2 separate regions of the Homo sapiens genome follow, and region 2 is reported to be linked to region 1. The links are microRNA targets in miRTarBase. Many come from high-throughput screens and were not tested one by one. Region 1 holds a microRNA gene; the other region holds the end of a gene's coding sequence. Distances are from middle to middle.

What was found. Region 1 holds the annotated microRNA hsa-miR-6510-3p (CACCGACUCUGUCUCCUGCAG, at 1,847-1,867, shown strand). A microRNA usually pairs through its seed, bases 2 to 8, with sites in the 3' UTR of a target mRNA and lowers its output. Matches are read on the target gene's strand: a 7mer-m8 pairs with bases 2 to 8, a 7mer-A1 pairs with bases 2 to 7 and ends in A, and an 8mer does both.
Region 2: miRTarBase lists TACO1 as a target of hsa-miR-6510-3p. The part of its 3' UTR that is shown has no 7-base or 8-base seed match.

The regions. Positions count from the first base shown.
Region 1 is chr17:41,514,649-41,519,032 of GRCh38, reverse strand. MIR6510 (microRNA 6510) reads left to right here and starts at 1,816; the gene lies at 1,816-1,869. It overlaps KRT15 (keratin 15), which reads left to right and starts at 143. Exons shown (of 8, transcript NM_002275.4): 1 at 143-703; 2 at 1,868-1,950; 3 at 2,069-2,225; 4 at 2,768-2,929; 5 at 3,023-3,148; 6 at 3,341-3,561; 7 at 4,359-4,384. The coding sequence starts at 206. RefSeq lists an enhancer at 1,508-2,392.
Region 2 is chr17:63,607,556-63,611,939 of GRCh38, forward strand. It overlaps TACO1 (translational activator of cytochrome c oxidase I), which reads left to right. Exons shown (of 5, transcript NM_016360.4): 5 at 247-810. The coding sequence ends at 447. It also overlaps the pseudogene FAM136DP. Among named protein-coding and RNA genes, the nearest start is that of TACO1, 8.9 kb to the left of the region's middle. RefSeq lists enhancers at 3,051-3,551, 3,552-4,052.

The sequences.
Region 1 (4,384 bases):
AACTTCACATGACCCACTCAAGGTGTGCAGGCAGCTGTGTTTGTCAGGAAGGCAGAAGGAGTTGGCTTTGCTTTAGGGGAGGAGACGAGGTCCCACAACACCCTCTGAAGGGTATATAAGGAGCCCCAGCGTGCAGCCTGGCCTGGTACCTCCTGCCAGCATCTCTTGGGTTTGCTGAGAACTCACGGGCTCCAGCTACCTGGCCATGACCACCACATTTCTGCAAACTTCTTCCTCCACCTTTGGGGGTGGCTCAACCCGAGGGGGTTCCCTCCTGGCTGGGGGAGGTGGCTTTGGTGGGGGGAGTCTCTCTGGGGGAGGTGGAAGCCGAAGTATCTCAGCTTCTTCTGCTAGGTTTGTCTCTTCAGGGTCAGGAGGAGGATATGGGGGTGGCATGAGGGTCTGTGGCTTTGGTGGAGGGGCTGGTAGTGTTTTCGGTGGAGGCTTTGGAGGGGGCGTTGGTGGGGGTTTTGGTGGTGGCTTTGGTGGTGGCGATGGTGGTCTCCTCTCTGGCAATGAGAAAATTACCATGCAGAACCTCAATGACCGCCTGGCCTCCTACCTGGACAAGGTACGTGCCCTGGAGGAGGCCAATGCTGACCTGGAGGTGAAGATCCATGACTGGTACCAGAAGCAGACCCCAACCAGCCCAGAATGCGACTACAGCCAATACTTCAAGACCATTGAAGAGCTCCGGGACAAGGTGAGTCCTCGGATGTCAAAGAGAGGGGAGCAGGTGGCTGGTACCCTGTACACAGCTCTAATGTCAGTGTTACTGCTGACTCAAGGAAATCCTTTCCTGCCCAGGCAATGACTGTCTGGTATGTAATCTCAGCAAATTTGGAATGCACCTGCTGTCCAGGTGCAGAGGCCAGTGCACATCTTCTCAACTTGGTGGTGCTGGGGGAGGGAGAGAGGGGTCTTGGGAATCTGGTTAGGACCAACAGGGGCACAGGTGGGGGCAATTATAAAGAGCCAGAGGCAGTAGCTCACACCTGTAATCCCAGTGCTTTGGGGGGCCAAGGTGATAGGATTGCTCGTGTCCAGGATTTAGAGGCTGCAGTGAGCTATGACTGTGCCACTGCACTCCGGCCTAGGTGACAGAGTGGAACCTGTATCTAATTAAATAAAAATAATTAAAAAAAAAGAGCAACTCGCCCTCCCTACCTCATGCACCCTGCAGGCTTCTGCATAAAGTATTCCTTTACCTCTTTTGCAAGAATGGGATTGGAGTGTGGCCTCATGAGTTCCAGATGCTAGAACCTCTTGTCTTTTCCTATAAAGAGGTCTTTTGTGCCAAAAGTACTGTTGGGTCTTAGGAGACCTGGGAACTCATTACACATTCTGCCACCCACTCACTCACCATTTTACTCCCTAAGACTGGGTTCCTCATTCGTAAAATGCCTTCTTAACTGCCCTCCAGGTTGCTACTGGCTGGAATGTTCTGTAGATCCATGGCTGTGTCCAAGGTGTGCAGGAGGCAGTGACCATGAGTTGTCCACAGTGGGGCTGGTGGAGTGTCTCTGAGAGAGCTATTGTCAGAGCTGGCTGCACCCCACTGCCCCACTCTCCTGGGCAACCAATTCCCACAGGCAATACTGCCTCCTTGGTCTTTCGTGCCCTGGAGATAAGGAAGGCAGCTCCTCAGGTGTCTCAAGGAGGCTGGATGGGACAAAACAAGAAATGGACACTGAAAGTGAGGCTGGACTTTGCCCACCCCAGAAGCCGTACAGATTTTTGTTGGTGGTGTCAGAGGGGTGATTGTCAGTGAGGGGTGATTTTCAATGAGGGGCTGGCCTTGGGTGCAGAGCAGAGAGCAGCAGGGGAGAGAGAGGAGTCCTCTAGACACCGACTCTGTCTCCTGCAGATCATGGCCACCACCATCGACAACTCCCGGGTCATCCTGGAGATCGACAATGCCAGGCTGGCTGCGGACGACTTCAGGCTCAAGTGCGCTCCCCCGTCTCTCTCCTCTTCCTGCATTGCCCACTTTACTTGGCCTTCTCCTGGCTCTGACTCAGGCAGCCAAGACCCCTCCCACTTCCTTCTTTGGCCTCCCTCTCCTCAGGTATGAGAATGAGCTGGCCCTGCGCCAGGGCGTTGAGGCTGACATCAACGGCTTGCGCCGAGTCCTGGATGAGCTGACCCTGGCCAGGACTGACCTGGAGATGCAGATCGAGGGCCTGAATGAGGAGCTAGCCTACCTGAAGAAGAACCACGAAGAGGTGAGAGCTGGCCCCCATCACCCCTGAACCCGAGAGAGGTGGGGAACCTCTTCCCAAAACTCACTTAAATTGCCCAGAGGGAAAGACAGTGGCTCCAGGAAGCCCTCCCAGATTTTCACGAGATTAAGTCAGTGGGAGGCAGAGTGGGGCTGTTGGTACTTCCTCATAGTTGGCCTGGGGCTTAGTGGTTCAGAAACACACCTACCCCACAAAACCAGGTGTCCTCATGGAGAGGAAGGGGCAGTGTCTGGTAGCCCAGGCCCACAGCCAGCCCAGGTGGCCCGTATGAATGGTTGACTTCCTGATTGGCTTTGTGAGCTCACATCAGGGCCCTACAGTCTCGGGGTCCTCCCTTGGTAGGACCTAGAGCAGCAGAGAACTCCTTAGAGCTGAGGGGTCCATGTGACCAAACCTCTTCATGTGCAATGGGGAACAGCGGTTGGGGTGTGTTACGGGCAGAGCCAGGATTGGCATGTGTGACGCCAGACTCTCAGGTCTCTCTTCTGCTCTCCGTCTCTAAGTGGGTCCCTCCCATCCTGCAGGAGATGAAGGAGTTCAGCAGCCAGCTGGCCGGCCAGGTCAATGTGGAGATGGACGCAGCACCGGGTGTGGACCTGACCCGTGTGCTGGCAGAGATGAGGGAGCAGTACGAGGCCATGGCGGAGAAGAACCGCCGGGATGTCGAGGCCTGGTTCTTCAGCAAGGTGGGCCTTATATCCTGCCCTGCCCTTCCTGCCCCAGGTCCCTGAGTCTCCGAGGAGGCCCCGGGGCTCACTTCTGTTGTGCATGACCTACAGACTGAGGAGCTGAACAAAGAGGTGGCCTCCAACACAGAAATGATCCAGACCAGCAAGACGGAGATCACAGACCTGAGACGCACGATGCAGGAGCTGGAGATCGAGCTGCAGTCCCAGCTCAGCATGGTACGGCCACTCGCGCCCCATCCCAGCCTCTCGGGTGGTAGAAGCTCCCACTCTTCCTGGCTATTTAAGCCTTGGAGTTCTCAAGCCCCCTCAAGAGGTGGTTCCCTGAACTCCATTCAGTGCCCCCTCCCTGCTTGCCCTCAGTGGCTTCCTTTCTAGCCTGATGTGTCTATGCATCTGTCACTCCCCCAGAAAGCTGGGCTGGAGAACTCACTGGCCGAGACAGAGTGCCGCTATGCCACGCAGCTGCAGCAGATCCAGGGGCTCATTGGTGGCCTGGAGGCCCAGCTGAGTGAGCTCCGATGCGAGATGGAGGCTCAGAACCAGGAGTACAAGATGCTGCTTGACATAAAGACACGGCTGGAGCAGGAGATCGCTACTTACCGCAGCCTGCTCGAGGGCCAGGATGCCAAGTAGGCGCCTGGGCACAGGGGAAGGAGTGATGAGGGCTGCTTGTGGCTAGGGTGCAGGGTCATCCTAAGGGAATGGCAGGGTGTCCCTAAGCAGCCTTGAGGGACTGTGAAAAGAGAACTGAGCAAGGAGGGAGGATCTGGACTCCTCACTCTGGTCCTTGGCTGTTACCTGGGACAGGTCACTTCCTCTCTCTGGATCCGTGTTTCTTCTGTAAATGATAGAGGCTGGGCTAGTGGTAGTTAAGATCTAGTGCTCATTCCATTCTCTGCATGAGATAGATGGGTATTCTTGTAGTTCAGAATCTTGACCAGCTCAGTGGCTCATGCCTGTAATCCCAGCACTTTGGGAGTCCAAGGCGGGTGGATCACTTGAGGTCAGGAGTTCGAGACCAGCATGGCCAATATGGTGAAACCCCGTCTCTACTAAAAATACAAAAATTAGCTGGGCGTGGTGGCGGGTGCCTGTAATCCCAGCTACTCGGGAGGCTGAGGCACAAGAATCACTTGAACCCGGGAGGCGGAGGTTTCAGTGGGCTGAGATCGTGCCACTGCACTCCAGCCTGGGCGACAGAGTGAGATTCCGTCTCAAAAAACAAAACAAAACAAAACAAAATCTGTCTACTTGGGGATAGCAGGCCTGGATGGGCTAGCAGGATGTCCCACCCCTAGAGGAGTCAGATGTGTGGGTGGTGGTGGTGTAGGGTCTGAAGAACACTGCATAGCTATCTACATGAGCTTCCCTTACGGACACTTGAGCTTGTGCCCTTTGCTTAAATCAGCTTCCCTCTTTCTTTCAGGATGGCTGGCATTGCCATCAGGGAAG
Region 2 (4,384 bases), 22 Mb from region 1:
CCAGGGTATAGGTGAGACAGTTCACATATTGTACAAACATTTATTAAGTGAATACTGAATAGGACCGACTCTAGTGAGGACTATGAGAAAGAAAGAGTCAAAACATTGAAAACGATGTCCCTGCCAGTGAAGAGCTCAAACCCAGTGATCCATTCCAGTACTGACATTCAGGACTTTGCAAGGTCCTGTGTGGCTTTGTCTCATTACCTCCTGGCTCCTCACCTCCTGACTTTCCTTTATCCCTAGTTTATTTGTGATGCCTCTTCACTGCACCAAGTGAGGAAGAAGCTGGACTCCCTGGGCCTGTGTTCTGTGTCCTGTGCACTAGAGTTCATCCCCAACTCAAAGGTGCAGCTGGCTGAGCCCGACCTGGAACAGGCCGCACATCTCATTCAGGCTCTCAGCAACCACGAGGATGTGATTCACGTCTATGATAACATTGAATAACCAGGCTACATGTGCCCCCGGGTTCCTTCCTAGAAATGTGGCAGCCCATTCCAGCACACAGGCTTCTGCAGCAATCTCTGAGGGTAAAGCCGGTGGGAGGCTCAGCAGGCCAGGAGGCCCAAGGACAGGACTTGCGACCTTGAAGCCAAAGGAATCTCACTTGTGGGGCCTCCTTGTCAGCTCTGCTGCTGTCTCAGAGCCATCTGGATGAGTGTCCCGACACCCTCTCGGATGCAGGGCAGGACCACCCAGCTGGTCAGACTCTGATGTTGGGTAGCTGGCCTCTGTGGGGATTGTAAGTGCCCTGAGGCGCTCTGTACTAGAAACTGCTCTTAATAATAACGGTGATTATTGGTTGCTGCATTGCTGTTGTATGGCTCTTGAGTCTTCCTGAGTTTGTGTCCAGCTGTTGGGATCCTCTGGACTAACTTTCAAGTCCCTAGGCTTAGCTCTACTACTCCAATCCCAGGATTATTTTTTTAATTGGCCATAGAAATGTAGTTGTATCCAGGCACTCCATGGTCTGATGCTGGTCTTACAGCCTAAACCTGTCATTCATTCATGCAACTAATATTTCTGGAACACTAGCTATATACCAAGAACTGTACTTATCTAGAGCATAAGCTATTCAACTGGTGTCCTGTGTTAGATCCTGCTCTAGAAGGTAGGACCTGAACACAGGACTGCTCTTTACTGGAGCTGTCCCAGGGCAGTGTGAGCTGCTGTGCAAGCATCTGTTGCTCTCTTTGTGTGACTTCTGTGCCCTTCTTTCACCAAACAGCTTAAGGTTCTAGCCCAGTAGGAAATCAAGTGCCAGTGATAAGGGACTTGGCAGTGGCTCACACCTATAATCCCATCTACTCGAGAGGCTGAGGCGGGAGGATCACTTGAGCCCAGGAGTCTAAGGCTACAGTGAGCTATGATTGCACCATTGCATTCCAGCTTGGGTGACAGAGTGAGAACTCTTCTTTTTTTTTTTTTTTTTTTTTTTTTTGAGGCAGAGTCTCACTCTGTTGCCCAGGCTGGAGAGCAGTGGCACAATCTCAGCTCATTGCAGCCTTGACCTCCTGGACTCAAGCAGTCCTTCCACCTCAGCCTCCCAAGTAGCTAGAACTACAGGTGCATGCCACCACGCCCAGCTAATTTATATATATTTTTGTAGAGATGGGGTTTCACTATGTTGTCCAGGTTGGTGTCGAGCTCCTGAGCTCAAGTGGTCTGCACACTCGGCCTCCCAAAGTGCTGGGATTACAGGCATGAGCCACCACGCCCGGCTGAGTCTGTCTCTTTTTTTTTTGAGACAGAGTCTTGCTCTGTGGCCCAGGCTGGAGTGCAGTAGCATGATCTTGGCTCACTGCAACCTCCACCTCCCAGGTTCAAGTGATTCTCCTCCTTCAGCCTCCCAAGTAGCTGGGATTACAAGCAGGCACCACCATGCCCGGCTAATTTTTTTGTGGAGGGGGAGGGGAGAAAATTAAACTTTATTTATTTTTAAAAGCAAACCACCGGGAAAATATAACACAGCCTGGAAGCAGCAAATGGACAGGCTATATTATCATTTCAAGTAGTAAGTTGATGAAAATACAATGAGGTTGCTATCAAAACAATAACGTGCCATGCCGGGGCAGGAACACTGCAAGTTGCGAAAGCCCCAGGCAAAAATGGTTTTTGGTACTGGGGTCTGCCTCTCCTTTGCTATAAGGGAGTCAGCTCATCCTAGCCCAAGTTGCTTACTTTTTCTTCCTTGGATTTCCTGTTGCCAGGGTTTGTCTCAATTGTGCTTTGTTAATTCAGGGGGCTAAGTAGGCAGTGCTAGGTTTAGGCTTTCATTCCATCCGTTCTATAAAAACCAGGTTTTTCCAAATCCAGTACTTCATAACTCTGTTATAATCAAGTAGCCAACTGCTCTTCTTTTACTGTTCATTTCTAGATACTAGTATATATCACAATCAAAACCCCCTTCTCTTCACCGGGAAAGTGTTACTGCAAGATTGTCCTGTCATTTTGCTACACACAGCCTCGGCCCATCAGCCAGTAATTATGCTTCCCATAATTAGTATGTCATCACCTCTCATGTTTTTGCATGGTCTCCAGGCTGAAAGATGCAGCATGTAATAATTTTAAGAAATCTACATCTACATCTTGATGACCAGAAATGGGGATCCTCAAGGAAACTTTCAAAGTTCTTATCCAAACTAGTCTCCCTCCCAATTCCACATCTTAAAATCAATTTGTATCGCCTTGTATAAATTACACAAAACCAAGAAAACAAAGACCCAGAAAACTTTTTTGCCCTTCTAAGCGGGTGACCTCATGGATTTTGTTTCACAGCTTACGGAAAATGGTGTGGTGACACTTCTGGTAAACAGGATGTTGGCAACAAAGAGAAAATATCTCTCCTCAAACTCCACCAACTCTAACCTGCCAGCCTGTTGGTACCTGTGTAATAAGAAGAGTTTAGTGCCTTGGAGGGCTCTGGCTTGTTACAGGGGAGATCCTTACTGGCAGGACAAGCACTGGCCATAGGATATATAAGCTCTAAAACTCTCCTGTAATATCTCTGACCCAATTTAGCACCACTTTTTTCCATTTCATTTTTTAGGACTGAAACATAAAAGAACCAGTGTCCAGAGGCAAGTGACATATGTCTTACACTTGTGGCCATCCTTCATTTCTTCATAAACTTTGCTTAAAAGACTAAAATTCCCAATTCCTTATAAAAAATATATTCTTGCCCTCAGCCCCAGTGGCCACTGGCAAAGACTGTTATTTCCCAATGGATAAGAGAGCCTCCTTCATCTTCTTGGCCATAGTTGGGATGAGGTGCGTGTGGTCATCCACACACTTGGTCACACAACCGTCCAGCTGCTGCTTCACCTGAAGCTCCTTACTCCCAGTATCCATTGAATCTTTGGCTTTGTTGTTGCAATGCATGGCGCACCGGGCCAGGTGGTGCCGGAACTTCTCCAACTCACTGGTGAGCAAAGCCCGGGCTTGAGCCAGAGGCACATGGCAGTGCTTTGATGTACTGGTGCACCTACTGCATGGAGGCCTGGCTGTCCTCACAACAGCTGGTGCTGCACCGGAACATGAGACCCTGCATCTTCCAGATGTTCTCTCTCTCCAGACTCTTCACCATGGAGTCCACCACCTCCTGCACCCACAGCTGCTGCAGCTCTGCCATGGCGTCCCCATACCGCCCTGCACCGTGCCACCCCGGCTAATTTTTGTATCTTTAGTAGAGACCAGGTTTGGCCATGTTGGCCAGGCTGGTCTCGAACTCCTGACCTTAGGTGATCCGTCCATCTTGGCCTCCCAAAGTGCTGGGATTACAGGCATGAGCCATGGCGCCCAGCCTCTGTCTTTCAAAAAAAAAAAAAGGGACTTACTAGGGCCTGCTTTGCCTGGGTCCCTATGCATCCTGGGATTGGTCAGAGTGAACCAATGAGAAGACTGAGCTGCTCTCAAGAAGGGCTACCACAAGCTGGTTTTGAAAGCTTCTTGGTTCTGAGAACAACCAGCCCTAGATCCTTTTCATCTCTGATGCCAAATGATGTGGCACTGAGAACTGAAGAGGAAACGTGAACAGAAAGAAGAGTGAGGGCTGAATAAGAAGCCTCGCCAGTGGGAAATAGGGCCCTTGGTACCTTTTGCTCCTAATAGTCACATCTGTGTTTAGAAGGGCCAGGAACTCCCACCTCCTGCGTCAGAGCCTGTCAAGCATGTCAGGCCTAGAGTGGCTTTCTGATCCCTGTTATACACCTATTTATAAGTTATCTAAGCTAATTCTGAGCTCAGAGTAATTTTCCTGAAGGAGCTTCAGGTAAATAAGGATGACAAAGAACTAAAACCAAATTTACTGTAAATGATAACTTCAGCTTCTAAGAAAAGAATTACTGACTCCACACTGATGTCAATAGCTGGAGAGCAAGGGCTA